4 linked regions of the Homo sapiens genome follow. The protein of the gene in region 3 purifies or fractionates together with the protein of the main gene of each other region. This does not show direct contact. Each region holds a gene or a part of one and is shown on either strand. Other genes may lie near its edges.

What was found. The genes of interacting proteins can lie anywhere in the genome.
Region 1: the proteins of PLEKHM1 (region 3) and DEF8 purify together in Homo sapiens (affinity purification with western blotting; one study listed by BioGRID). This does not show direct contact.
Region 2: the proteins of PLEKHM1 (region 3) and PRR5L purify together in Homo sapiens (affinity purification with mass spectrometry; one study listed by BioGRID and IntAct). This does not show direct contact.
Region 4: the proteins of PLEKHM1 (region 3) and MIOS purify together in Homo sapiens (affinity purification with mass spectrometry; one study listed by BioGRID and IntAct). This does not show direct contact.

What each region holds. Positions count from the first base shown.
Region 1 is NC_000016.10:89,951,755-89,955,254, forward strand, and holds part of DEF8 (differentially expressed in FDCP 8 homolog), read left to right. Parts: exon of another isoform or gene 1-928; intron 929-1,622; exon of another isoform or gene 1,623-1,766; intron 1,767-2,488; coding exon of another isoform or gene 2,489-2,498; coding exon 2,499-2,622; intron 2,623-3,414; coding exon 3,415-3,500. UniProt on the Homo sapiens protein: Positively regulates lysosome peripheral distribution and ruffled border formation in osteoclasts. Involved in bone resorption.
Region 2 is NC_000011.10:36,446,288-36,449,787, reverse strand, and holds part of PRR5L (proline-rich protein 5-like), read right to left. Parts: intron 3,489-3,500; coding exon 3,348-3,488; intron 1-3,347. UniProt on the Homo sapiens protein: Associates with the mTORC2 complex that regulates cellular processes including survival and organization of the cytoskeleton.
Region 3 is NC_000017.11:45,435,400-45,438,721, reverse strand, and holds the end of PLEKHM1 (pleckstrin homology domain-containing family M member 1), read left to right. Parts: intron 1-752; coding exon 753-864; 3' UTR 865-2,822; downstream 2,823-3,322. UniProt on the Homo sapiens protein: Acts as a multivalent adapter protein that regulates Rab7-dependent and HOPS complex-dependent fusion events in the endolysosomal system and couples autophagic and the endocytic trafficking pathways.
Region 4 is NC_000007.14:7,569,884-7,573,383, forward strand, and holds part of MIOS (GATOR2 complex protein MIOS), read left to right. Parts: intron 1-2,552; 5' UTR 2,553-2,592; coding exon 2,593-3,500. UniProt on the Homo sapiens protein: As a component of the GATOR2 complex, functions as an activator of the amino acid-sensing branch of the mTORC1 signaling pathway. The GATOR2 complex indirectly activates mTORC1 through the inhibition of the GATOR1 subcomplex.

The DNA of each region.
Region 1 (3,500 bases), on a different chromosome or scaffold from region 3:
CTGAAGAGGGGCAGCCCCTACCTTTAAGGACAATTCTCAGAAGTCTTTTCTTTTTTCTCATATGTATGTATACACACACACACATATATATGTATATACACACACATACATATTTATGTAAAAAAGATTTTTTTTTTTTTTGATATGGAGTCTCGCTCTGTTGCCCAGGCTGGAGTGCAGTGGTGCGTTCTCGGCTCACTGCAAGCTCCGCTTCCTGGGTTCACGCTATTCTGCTGCCTCAGCCTCCCGAGTAGCTGGGGCTACAGGCGCCTGCCACCACACCTGGCTAATTTTTTGTATTTCTAGTAGAGACAGGGTTTCAATGTGTTAGCCAGGATGGTTTCGATCTCCTGACCTGGTGATCCGCCCGCCTCGGCCTCCCAATGTGCTGGGATTACAGGCGTGAGCCACGGCGCCCAGCCCATATTTGTATAAAATTTAATAGAGATAGGGCCTCATTGCATTGGGCCTGGCCGGATGCCGTCCTCCTGCCTTGGCCTTCCAGAGTGCTGGGATTATAGGTGTGAGCTACCACGCCCGGCCCATTACTGTTGTTTTCAGATAGCCCTGATTTAGTCTCTGGTTCTCCCTTTTCTTGCCTATAAATCAGGGAGAACACGTACTTCCTGGGGTGGATGGAAGGGCTAAGCACTTGGGTATGTCAGTGAAGCCAGGAGCCCAGAGCTGCTCAGATCTGCCTGATCTTCTCAAGCCGAGGGGGTCAGAACAGTCACTTTACCAGGTCTAGCTGCTGGGGAGGCTGGGAAATTATGTGACAAACAAAAATGAGGCTCCTCATTCAGGAAGAAGGAGGAGTGATGTTGGGATGGCCTGATTTCTCCTGTGTCCTGGGTGCTCCCTGGGAGACTGGGGAGGTGCTGGCATCGGGTGGCCGCCTCTGACTCTGTGACCCACCCACAGTCATCAGGTAATAAGAGAAGGAGGTGGGACTGGGGCCCACTCACGTTCCCTGTGTCTTCCCCGTGCCTCCCTGTTGGGGTCCACGGGCAGCCTGTCCATGGGTGCTTTGTCCTTTCAGGCTGGCGTGCAGGTGCCCAACCCACACTCCTGCCCCACAGGCACAACAGGCAGGACAGGCCCCATAGGTGGTGTGGAGTCTTGCCCAGTTGCAGGGCAGCCATGTGGGGTTGGGGTGGCCTCCTTATCCCACTGCCAGTGAGGCAATTAGTTCAAATCCCAGTTCTTCCAGGCCACAGTGTGACCCTGAGCAGGGCCGTCCCCTCTGGGCTCAGCTCTCTTTCTTTTGGGAGAAGAGACAGAGGATAAATCATAGGATTGATTATTATAATTGTGAATTATTTCAGACTGTAGCAGGTGTAGTGAAAGCATAACTAACACTGTAGCAGGTGTAGTGAAAGCATAACTAACACTGTTGCAGTTACTGAACAACTTTAAAAAGACATCTCCGACTTTCTATAACATCAACAGACCTTACAGCGAGCTTACTTTGTGCTCAGTCTCTGTTAACTCATTTCACCCTCACAATGGCCCATTACGGATGGGGAAATGGAGGCAGAGAGGCTAAGGAATGTGGCCCAGGAAGTTAAGTGGGAGGGCTGGATGCCAACTGCCTCTACTCCCACCCCAACCAAAGTCCCTTCCTCCCTGCCAGGAGCCATCAGCCCTGTGTGTTCTGCAGTGTTCTGAGCCTCCGGGTGGGGAAAGAGCAATTCTTGATCCTGAGCTTCTGCCACGTGGAGAACTAGGCCCTTCCGGCCTGTTTCCTGGGTTCCTGAGGCACAGAGCCGTGGGCCTGGTTCAGGTCGTGTTGCTCATCACAGGATCAGAACCCAGGCCAGAGAGCCTGGATGCATTTGTAGGGGGCTTCTCTGTGTGCTGGCAGGGAATCCTCCCAAGATCCCCTGCTCCTGGGCATGGGGAAGGTGGGCCCTGCTCACTCACCTGTGGCAGAGCAGGAATGGGCCCTGGAACTGTCCCCAAGTGTCCAACCCTAAGTCCTGAGACAGGGGCTGTGGTTTCAGGGTGCTCTGACAAGAAAGCACCTTTGCTTGGGGCCCAGGAAGGAGGAACCCATTTCTGAGAGGTGTGTCTCACATAGCAGGTGGATAGCAAGCTAGAGCGGGGCTGAGTGAGTATCTGGGGCTGAGGCCCAGAGAGGATCCCATAGGTAGCTCTAGGGCTGGAGCTCTGCAACATTGGGCAAGAGGACCCTGTGCTGGGAGGCAGGGAGCTTGGGCCCCTCAGATGGGCCACGTGCCCTCGTGGGACCCTCATTGTCACCGTGAGCTCTTTCCAAGGGGACGCCACCAGTGGGGGCCTGGGCAGGAGGCAGCTGAGGTGTTTCAGGAAAAGGCTGAAGATCAAGGCTGTGGTGTGAGGACTACCCACTTTAGGGAAGTGAAAGAGGCCAGCCTCACCCCAGACACCCCAGTGTGGTTGGGGAAAGGGGGTGGTCCGTGGTGAGCCTGGTACCTGGGGACTCATCCTGGCCCTGCCTGGCCCTCAGGTGGGATGCTATGGAATATGATGAGAAGCTGGCCCGTTTCCGGCAGGCCCACCTCAACCCCTTCAACAAGCAGTCTGGGCCGAGACAGCATGAGCAGGGCCCTGGGGAGGAGGTCCCGGACGTCACTCCTGAAGGTGGGTGCTGGTGGGAGTCAGGGTGGGAGCTGGGCAGGTCTCTGACTGCTTACGTGGACCCCTCCTTTCTTCCTGCCGCGTCCTGCGCAGCCCTGGCTTTCCCACGGAGCCGGCACCTGCTGGCTGTGTTCTTTTTCCCATCTCTTCTGTGGTCGTGTGGTTTGTTTCTGTGTCCCCACTAGAATTCACATTCCTGAGGGCAAGATTTGTGCCTGACCCATCACTGCTGCATCCTAGGGCCCAGCACATAGTAGGTGCTCAGGGAACACTTGCTGAGTGCGGTCAGCGCTGAGACCTGGTAAGGGAGAGGTTAGCCGAGGGAACGTGCTCTGGGCGTCAGGGTGGCATGAGCTTTAGAAACTGCAGATGAGGTCATCAGGGAGTGCTTGGAGCGGGGCAGCTGCAGAGACGGCCTGGAGTCGACACTGGGGTTCGTGGATTTTGCTGTGTAGCCATGCAGTGGTTTTTCTCTCGCCCCCGTGGTCACGCATGAGGTGTCCACCTTAGAAATGGGATGTCTCTATAATGCTGTCTTGAGGACTTTTGGCACCGAGTGTCATTCCACCTCCTCATTTTGAGTGGCTCTTTCCTGTCTACACAAGGCTGTGGGCTCCTCTGTGAATGCAGACTGGACGGTGTGCAGATCTGAGTGGTGCCCAGCTCTCACGGTGCCTCCTTTCTGTGCGGCTTCCTGAATCCCTTTCCCACTCCTGGCTATCTCAGCTCCTCCCTAGGGGATGGGAGGCAGGAGGTAGCAGCTGACGCTCCACACCTGTCCCCGTCTTCCTCCAGAGGCCCTGCCTGAGCTGCCCCCTGGGGAGCCGGAATTCCGCTGCCCTGAACGCGTGATGGATCTCGGCCTGTCTGAGGACCACTTC
Region 2 (3,500 bases), on a different chromosome or scaffold from region 3:
GTGCTGTCCTCAGCCCTTGGCTTGGCTGCCAAACAGCTATGGAATTTGTGTGGTCCAGCGTAAAATGAAAATGCAGGGCCTCGTGTTCAAAAATCATTAAGAGTGTCAAATGCTGATGGGAGAAAATAAAACCAAGCTCAGGGTCCTCTGAGTACAGGCTGCACACCCTGCCTGGCTGGGGCCCCTGAGAATGCACCATTCCGGTGGTCTCAGGACCTGTCTGCATCAGCTGGGAGGAAACAGATCTTCACAGTGGTCAATATCTCCGATTCTGCCTCTCACTGGGGCAGTTTGAAGGCAGAGCACATGGCCCACTGTAGGAGTATTTGTACAACTTGGGAAGGGTGGAGTTGGGTCAGGGACATTGTGGAAGAGCGACAGAAAAGACGGAGCTGAAGGCCTAAGAAAGAGCTCTTTTCTCTGTAGTAGGGTCAGGTAGTTTTGAAAAATATCAGCCCCAGGTCTCATGGCACTGTGGAAAGTGCATGTCTAGGGAGAGAATGGACAATTCTAAGTACGGAGGCCCAAATTTCCTGTAGCAGATATGGCCCCAGGGCAGTGCCACCTGGAAGTTCCATTCAGATCCAGAGGCCATCGCCCTTGCTGCTCAAGATGGACTTGGGCCGGGGAAAGATCCGGGTTCTTCACAGTCACATCCCCAGCCCCAGGCTCTAGAGCTCCTGGCAAGGAAGAACATGGGCCAAAGGCAACATTCCCAGGAAGCCCTCAGGGGAAGTGATGCCAGATGCCCTGCAGGAGAGAGGGACGATCTTTAATGGTCTGTAGGATGCCTGTGGGGCGTTTCCAAGTACCCTGGGAGACTGCAGAAGGGAGGCAGTAGTTGCCTAGAAAGGCTAAGTGGAGGTAGGAAGATAAGGGCTAAGGGATGGGGAGCAATCCAGCTCTCTTAATAAATGAGTACAAGACCTTGAGAAAAGTCGCCACCTTCTCTGAACCTCCATCTCAGCTGTGAGATGGGAAAAATAATGGTATAGACACAGGAGGAACCATTTCCTTGCCTGACTTTCTGGAAATTCGCCATGATCCCAGAGCTTCTTTGACTGTACTTCCCTCTGCCAAGAGAAGAAGCCCTACATGACGGTCACCAACATGGGTGTGAGGTCAGGGACCCAGCATCAGTCCTGCTCAACCTTCTACTAGCTGGTGCTATATTCCCTGGACAGTGTTTAATTAATACCTATTATGTGCCAAAGACTATGCTGGGTGCTGAGGGCACAAGGGCAAGGAGAAAACATTGACCTGCCTTGATTAGACAGGGGCTTGAGGACCCCAGAAGACAAAGTGTTCTGAGCAGGAGGAATGGTGATCACAAAGATCCCACGGCAGCCAGGAGAAGCCAAGAAGACCAGAAAAGTGAGTAAGTCAGGTTCCAGGCAGGGATGGAAGGGTGGGAGATGCTGAAGGCCAGGGTACAGACTTGGGCTGTTTTTCTAAGATCGATTGGAAACCACTGAAGAGTTTGAGGCCGTCCCATGGAGAGCAAATGGGGGTGGGGACCAGAGCGCATGAGGGTAGATTCTCCTGGGCAAGCAGTCTCACCTGTCTTTGGGGACTCAGGGGTATGATGACAGCTTTCTCATATGGCTGCAGGGCTACCTGGCACAGGGCCCGGAATGTTGGAATGTGATAGACACAGGCCCTCCTGTTCCAGCAGCAACAGGTGAGAGTCTTCACCTGCAGGACTGGATCAATTCTCCTTCCCACAAAACCAAACAAACCGCCACCGCCCAAAACACAAAGGAATCGCTTCTCAGCCCTAAACTATTATAAACTGATATGGGAAGATGGGAGCCCAACTTTCCGAATTTTCCTATCAGAATCCCAAAGGGCTCATTTTCAAGACTCCTTATTCAGGAAGCATGCTCTAATTAAGGCTTCTCAGACCCGAGCCCCACATGCATTTTTCTATCCCCCTCCTTCTCCATCTCTTCCATAAAAATACTTGACCTGGCATTCCGGCCAATTACACCCACCCTCATCCTATTAGGCAACTCTTCCTCCTCTCTAATTACAGGAAAGGGGGAGAATGCCCAGAAGGATGGCCCAGCTTCAAGGACTGAAAGAGAGCACCAGCTGGGGGATGTGGGGGAAGGATTGGGGCCCCAATGCCTGACATTCCATCACTGCTGTGAGGGCAGCAAGGGGTCATCACTAGCCTGATCAAGGATGAAGCCATCTTCCCTGAGGAAGGGCTCAGAGCTAATGCTGCAGCATCTGAACTTGTTACAGAGGTGAAGAGGCATAGTAGTCACCTCTTGGGGGTGTCCCTAGCCAAAAACCCTACTCGTCGAGAATTGTGTGCCCCCACCCATAGGAATGAGTTTGCCAAGGCCATGTTTATACTGCTTGATCTTATTCAAGGGTCATGGCTGATTGGGCAAAGAGGAATCATCTAGCCCAAGCTGGACCAATTAAATTATTTCCTCTGGGGAGGAAGCACAGTGTGCATAATTCCAAATCTTACTGCCTCTTCCTAACTGAGGGACCTCAGGCAAGCACACAAACTTACTAGGTTTCATTTTCCTCACCTCTAAAATGGGAATAACAATGCCTACTTCATACAGTGATTGTCTGGATTATCTGATTAAGGAAACAACACACTTAACGTCCTTGGCCTGTGCCCGGCACATAGCCAAGGACCAATATGTGTTAGCTCAAATTCCTAGTATTGATTTAGAATTGGGATTGAGTGACACTAGGCAGCCACTGGGCAGTCTCTTACTGGAAGCACATCAGCTGTGAGGTGTCACATTCGATCAGGTACAAACCAAACACAGAACATAAGCCTGCAGGGAGAAAAAGACCAAGTCCAGGAAAGATAGGATAAGATGAAGACAGACAAAGTAGCCCAGATACAAGTAGAGACTAGAAAGTAGAGAAAGGATGGTGGCTTCATGGCCTGAGACAGCCTCATTCCTGGTTGTAATCCCTCCTGAAGTCCATCTGCCCTAGGAGCTTTTCAGGGAGTTCCTCATCTGCTTAAGCTAGGCCAAAGTGTATTCTTTGCTGTGACTTGCAACTTGTGGCTCCCTGGCATCACTGGAGAGGGGAAAAGGGCATCTACTTCCTGAATGAAAGACTATGCTTCCCTCACTCCCCAGTGTGGTCCTGGCACCAAGCACAGCACCAGGACCTAACAGGTGCTCAGTGAATGCACCTCAAATGAACAAATGAATGAATGAATGAACACGGGCCAACAAACTAAATAGTAGTAAGCCAAGCTAAGGTGCTCTGGTCACTAGGTTCCTTCCCCCTCATCTCAGAAAGGCAATCTCTTCCCTCGCTCCCTCCCTCTGCCTTGGGGCAAGTCTCCAGCACAGCCTCACCTGCAGGATGAGCAACATCTGGACAATGGACGAGGGCAGCTTGGACTGGGCCAGCAGCAGCAGGTCACCCAGCTTCACCTTCAGCAAGACTAGGTCTCGGAAGCCCAGCAGGGAGATCTGGCGGATAGTCAGCTCCTGGCCCTAGAGGGGACA
Region 3 (3,322 bases):
AGCCAGGTGTGGTGGTGGGCACCTGTAATCCCAGCTACTTGGGAGGCTGAGGCAGGGGAATCACTTGAATTCGGGAGGCAGAGGTTGCAGTGAGCCGAGATCGTGCCACTGCACTCCAGCCTGGGCAACAGAGCAAGACTCTGAAAAATAAATAAATAAAGTAAGTAAAAAAAATTTTTTTTTTCTTTTTGAGATGGAGTCTTGCTCTGTCGCCCAGGCTGGAGTGCAATGGTGCAGTCTCGGCTCACTGCAAGCTCTGCCTCCCGGGTTCATGCCATTCTCCTGCCTCAGCCTCCCCAGCAGCTGGGGCTACAGGCACACACCGCCACGCCCGGCTAATTTTTGTATTTTTAGTAGAGACAGGGTTTCACTGTGTTAGCCAGGATGGTCTCGATCTCCTGACCTTGTGACCCGCCCACCTCGGCCTCCCAAAGTGCTGGGATTAAAGGCGTGAGCCACTGCGCCTGGCCGTAAATATTTTTTAAATATAGGCAAGAGATCTTTAATGAATCTCAAGCAGCATTTATAAAAAATGCAATAGGACAGAGAATATCAGTGTGCATTGTGTGACGTATGGGTAAGCACTGTTTCAAGACTCTCCTGTTCCAGAACGGAGAGGCACGGTGTGCGTGCATGGGTTACACAGTACATCACAGCCGTATCGTGGGTTCTGGTCAAAAGGGCTGGCCAGCGTGGCCACAGGGCAACCTCCAGCCCAGCCGGCACCAGCAGGCCTACTGCTCTCTCCCCAGGTGTGCCGAGTGCAAGACCGTCTTCCACCAGAGCTGCCAGGCTGTGGTGAAGAAGGGCTGCCCCCGCTGTGCCCGCCGGCGCAAGTACCAGGAACAGAACATTTTCGCCTGATGCCCATCTGCTGACCCCGCTCTGAAAGCCGGGGGTGAGTGTGGCTCAGCCATCCCGGCTGGGTTTGCCATCAGCCCAGGATACTCACCGTGTCACAGCTGTGTCCCCTTGTCAGGAAGACCCTCAGATGTGGCCAGAGCACCGGCCTCCCAGAGAAAGCCCAGGAAGTCCCCGTGGTGTCCCCTGGCCCTCCCCCCACCCCTCTGCTGCAGGAGGCGTGGCCACCACCAGATGCTCCCTGTCTGGGGCAGGCAGGGCCGTTTACTCACCAGGCCCTGGCTCACCAGCGTCCCGGCGCCTCCGTTAGGGCTGCCCAAACACTGTGGAAAGGGGACTTGGGGAGCATTTTCAATTCCACATTCCTGATTAAAAGGTCTAGTTTTTTAAGGTGGGTTTTTCCCATTCATATTTCAACAGAAAGTATTTTTTTATTCTTGACCCTACGTGAGTCACCCATGAAATCCAGACATTCTCACCCCCAGCGGATGCACAGGAGCCACTCAGGCCTGGCTTAGAGGTAGCGGGTGGCTGGTGGGCAGGCCACTGCTGGGACAGGGTCTATGGGCCCACCCAGTGCCTTTCCTTGGCCCTCACTGCCAGTGCCAAACCGCCCCTCAGCAGGGCAGGGCCAGTCCTGGCGACCCCGGTTCCTCTGTGTCCTCTTTACTCCCCACCCCAGTGCGTCTCGCCTGCTGAGCCCACCGCTTTCTCAGCGTCAGAGCCCCTAGCTCTTCTCTAGCCTGGGGCCTTGGCCCCATTAGGAGAAGGAGAAATGACTGGAAACCAGCACTGTCAGCACTTTGAGCCCTCCTCGGTTTATGGAGGGTCGCCGTCTTGCCCACCCCCGATCCCCGTGCGCTCCTCACCCCTCTACAGACAGGGGCGCTGCTGCAGATGCTCCAGGCCCACCTTGGTGGGTGCCCGGGGTCACACTCTCTGCCTGACTGACCCCTGCCAGGGCACAGATAGGCAGGACCCCAGAGAGGGCAGGCAGCCACGCCCTGCACTGTGGAGAAGTGACCTGGTCCTAAGCTGTGCAGGGCGTGCGGGGGAACTGCCCTGTGGATGCAGCCACCACCTCACAAAGCCATGAATTCCCAAAGCATCACTGAACTTGCCCAGCCGGGACACTGGAGACTGAAGAAGTTCCCCGGAGCAGGACTGCCTTTGAAGGGGCCTTGGGGCTGGGGTGGGAGTCTGGAATTGTTTTCAAAGTGATGGTCAGACCCTCCAGGCTTCGGGGAAATGTGGGTTTGCTGGTCTCTCTGTCGCCTTCCCCCACCTCTCCTGGACCTAGCAGGCCCTCAGTCCTAGCTGTCTTACCTGCGCTCAGCTTGGAGTCAGGCCTCAGGTGGAGAGCCGCATGTCACTGTCAGAGATGAGCCCACCCCCACCCTTCCCTGGGGGCGATTAGCTGCTGAGTCACCCACCCAGCCTTGGAGCTGGATGCCTGTGCAGCAGAACAGAGGCAACGGTGGCAGGCAGGTGGAGGCTGCGCACAGCTTCTCCCGGTCATGGCACACACCTGTGCCCAGACGCCAATGCCTCCTAAGCCAGGAGCTGGGTTATGCACCGCCATGGCCCACATTAACGCTCCACCACAAGCCCAGCCTAGTCAGAGCCCTCATTGCCCCATCCCTGAGTGGGCAGGAGCCTGGCCTGGGGAGGGCTTGGGCCTGTGAGGATTCTCCCCGAAGGTGCCCTCGGAGGCAGCAGGTTTGAGGCCCTGGGGGGCCCGTTCCCCAGAAGCTGCCAGTGCTTTCAGATGCATTGACTCTTCCCGCCTCCCCTCCCTCAGAAAGGTAGTGCCCACACTATTTTTAAAATGTTATTTTATGCAATACACTGTTCCTAGTGAGCAGGGCTCTGGCCCTGAGGAGTCTTTGCAATGTATTGAAGGAATTGCTGCCGTGTGAGTTTTGAATGATTTTGCAGTAAAGACCTGATCTTTCTCATCACTGGTCTGGCTTCTGAATTCTAACACTGCCACGGCCAGGGGGGAGACCACCAGCCATCTGTTACCATCTGTCAGGGTCCCCTACCCTCATGTTAGTCCCTGGCACGGGGGAAGGCTTGGGAGGTCCGTGGCAAACACTTGTAGGCAGAGGGCTTGCATGCCAGGAGTGGGCAGGGAGAAGAGAGTAAGAAAACCACCTTGCCAAGCCCAGCAGTCAGGCTCTTCCTGGGGTAGGATCTCAGGGTCTCTGGGGAGGTGTACCCACACTTGTATAACAACTCAAGCTGATCCCACGCCGGTGGCTTCTTTTCCTGTGACTTAAATGTCAAAACACAGACCCTTGACACTGGATCATGTGAAACCTCAGGATACAGGGGACATTTCTCAGAGGAGAAATAAAGGAGAGATGGGGCTCAGGAAAGAAGGGTTATTTAAGTGGATCCCCCGATTCAGGGCTCATGGTTTTAGGGCTCAAAATGACTTTTACTTGGCTGCTGACCT
Region 4 (3,500 bases), on a different chromosome or scaffold from region 3:
TACTCTAGGAAGTGGAAAGGACAGTGTAAAAGGACAGCAAGAATGTTGTGCCACAAGGCCGGTGCAGTAGGCAGAGACCAAAAGCATTTAGGGTTTTGTAGGTTATACTAAGAGCAGCTGAAGACCATTAGAGGGTTTTAAGCAAGGAAGGATAGCCTGGTCAAGGTTGTGTTGTAGAAAGATTTTTACTCTGGTATTCTATAAAGCAAAATTTCTGAAGGACCAGGGGAAAGATGAATAAAAGAAAAGCCTCCAGCACCACACACCAGATATGTTGTATACCTTAATTTACTGAAATCAGTTTTCAGAGGCTTGAGACTATCCTCTGTGTGGTAGCACTTGGAAGCCTGAGTGAGGAGACAAGATGATAAATAATTGGGTTGATCTAGGACTGGGGAAAGGCAAACCCAAAGTGGCAAGGAAATGAAGACATTGAGGGTGCTAGTAAGAATATTGAAATGATTGATCTTGGGCTTGAGAAATGCTAAAGAAGGAAATAAAACCAGTATAAGAATTCCTAAATCAGTGGTCCCCAACCTTTTTGGCACCAGGGACCAGTTTCATGGAAGACAATTTTCTCACGGATGAGGGGTGGGGGTGTGGTTTCAGGATGATTCAAGCGCATTACATTTATTGTGCACTTTATTTCTATTTACATTGTACTATACAATGAAATAATTATACAACTCACCGTAATGTAGAATCAGTGGGAGCCCTGAGCTTGTTTTCCTGCAACTAGATGGTCCCATATGGGAGTGATAGGAGACAGTGACAGATCATCAGGCATTAGATTCTCACAAGGAATGCACAACCTAGATCCCTCTCTTGCACAGTTCACAATAGGGTTTGCACTCCTGTGAGAAACTAATGCTGCTATTGATCTGACAGGAGGCGGAGCTCAGGCAGCAGTGTGTGAGATGAGTGGCTGTAAATAACAGATGACGCTTAGCTCCCTTGCCTGCTGCTCACCTCCTGCTGTGTGGCCTGGTTCCTAACAGGCCAGGGAGCAGAACTGGTCTGCGGCCCTGGGAGTTGGGGACCCCTGGTCTAAATTATATGAGTCTATGAAGTTTTAGACTGGTAATTCCCAACTGAAACTTTTGCAAGATCAAAAAGAAAAGCAATTATGTTTGAGTTGAACTATTTAGTGTATCCTTATTAGGAGTCTATGCCAGGCTCTATATATGGCACTAAGGATAGAGAGGTAAGTGAACCATAGCTTTACCTTATGAGAACTGACAACAGAGTTGTACAGATGCCAATTGCAATGAAGATTTTAAGTATGTTCATTCTTTTTGAATCTATTACCTTTTGCCAGCCTCTGTTAGAAACAGGCATTTAAATTTTTGTAGGCAACCTTAATTATTGAAACACCATTTTTAACTATAGCTATATTTAGTTCGTGTGCTTCTACTGCTAGAATATTTATTTTTTTCAAAAATTCTACTTTAACACTTATTCAAAGTTTGTAGAAGCGAAAACTGAAAGAGCCTCTAATGATCACTTAATCCACTTTCTCAGAGTGTGGTATGTGTGTACCACTGGTCATAAACAGGATGCTTTGTAGATAAAACACAATCAAGCCTTTTTAATAGTTATATATTTCAGTGTAGGTTAAAAATATATTTAGCATAGCATACCATGATTCATGGACCTTATGAAGAGATTAAAGTCAATTTTCAGATTTTAAAAATGAGTCAGTTTAAAGAAAAATATTAATGGCATAGGTGTTACATGACTGAAGTTTGGGAAATACTAATCTAAACCAGCTCCTACATTGTGTAGATGAGAAAACAAAGGGGTTCCCCACACACAATGACTTTTCTGAGGCATATAACTAATATACGGCAGAGCTAGGACTAGAACTCAGGTTCGTTCAGTACATTCCAGTGTTTATTCTGCCATACAAGGCTGATGCTTATTACTAAAGTTGAAGAAACCGCTGTCTTAGTATGACATTGTACTTTAAATCTCCATTGTTCATTACGATGACCACATATGGTTATTTATATTAAAATTTGTTAAAATTAAGGTTTAAAATTTGAATTAGTCACATTTCTAGTGCTCAGTAGCTACATGTGGCTAGTGGCTACCATATTGGACAGCATGAACATGAAACATTTCTGTCATTGCAGAAAGTTTTATTGGGCAGTGCTGCTTTAAACTATTGCTTAGGAATATGATTCATAAGTTTTCCCCCCTTCAAAGGGATAATACTTATTAATTTGCTTACCACACTGAAGTTGTTATAACTCTGAAGTTAAGCTGAAGGTACTAGTAACAGTGCAATTAAGATAATTGATCATGGGAAATATAGCCAGGATGGGATTCTCAGATTCCTACCAGCTCATTTTATTGGAAGTGGTTGTTCTTTCTCCTTTTTTTTCAATAAATATTTTCTTGAATTCATAGCAGATAGAGAGAAGAAATACAAATATATTGAAAAAGAGGGTTCTTGAATAGAGAATTTTCTGACTTTCTGAATAGTTTATTCAACGTAAGAATTATATTTTGCTGATATTTTAAAACTTTTTATTTTTAAACATTTTCAGTGAATGGACCTGAGTGGACCCTTTGATCACATCAGTAAACATGAGCGGTACCAAACCTGATATTTTATGGGCACCACACCATGTTGATAGATTTGTTGTGTGTGACTCAGAACTAAGTCTTTATCATGTGGAATCTACTGTGAATTCAGAACTCAAAGCTGGATCTTTACGTTTATCTGAAGACTCTGCAGCTACATTACTGTCAATAAATTCAGATACACCCTATATGAAATGTGTTGCCTGGTATCTTAATTATGATCCTGAATGTCTGCTGGCAGTTGGACAAGCAAATGGTCGAGTTGTACTTACAAGCCTTGGTCAAGATCATAACTCAAAGTTCAAAGATTTGATAGGAAAAGAGTTTGTTCCAAAACATGCACGACAATGTAATACCCTTGCCTGGAATCCACTGGATAGTAACTGGCTAGCTGCTGGTTTAGATAAGCACAGAGCTGACTTTTCAGTGCTAATATGGGATATCTGCAGCAAATATACTCCTGATATAGTTCCCATGGAAAAAGTGAAACTTTCAGCAGGTGAAACTGAAACAACATTATTAGTAACAAAACCACTTTATGAGTTAGGACAGAATGATGCTTGTCTGTCTCTTTGTTGGCTTCCACGAGACCAGAAACTTCTCCTTGCTGGTATGCATCGTAACCTAGCTATATTTGATCTTCGGAATACAAGCCAAAAGATGTTCGTAAATACAAAAGCTGTTCAGGGTGTGACGGTAGACCCATATTTCCACGATCGTGTTGCTTCCTTCTATGAAGGTCAGGTTGCAATATGGGATCTTAGAAAATTTGAGAAGCCAGTTTTGACATTGACTGAGCAACCAAAACCCTTAACAAAAGTAGCATGGTGTCCCACTAGGACTGGTCTACTTGCCACTTTAACAAGGGATAGTAATATTATTAGATTGTATGATATGCAGCATACACCCAC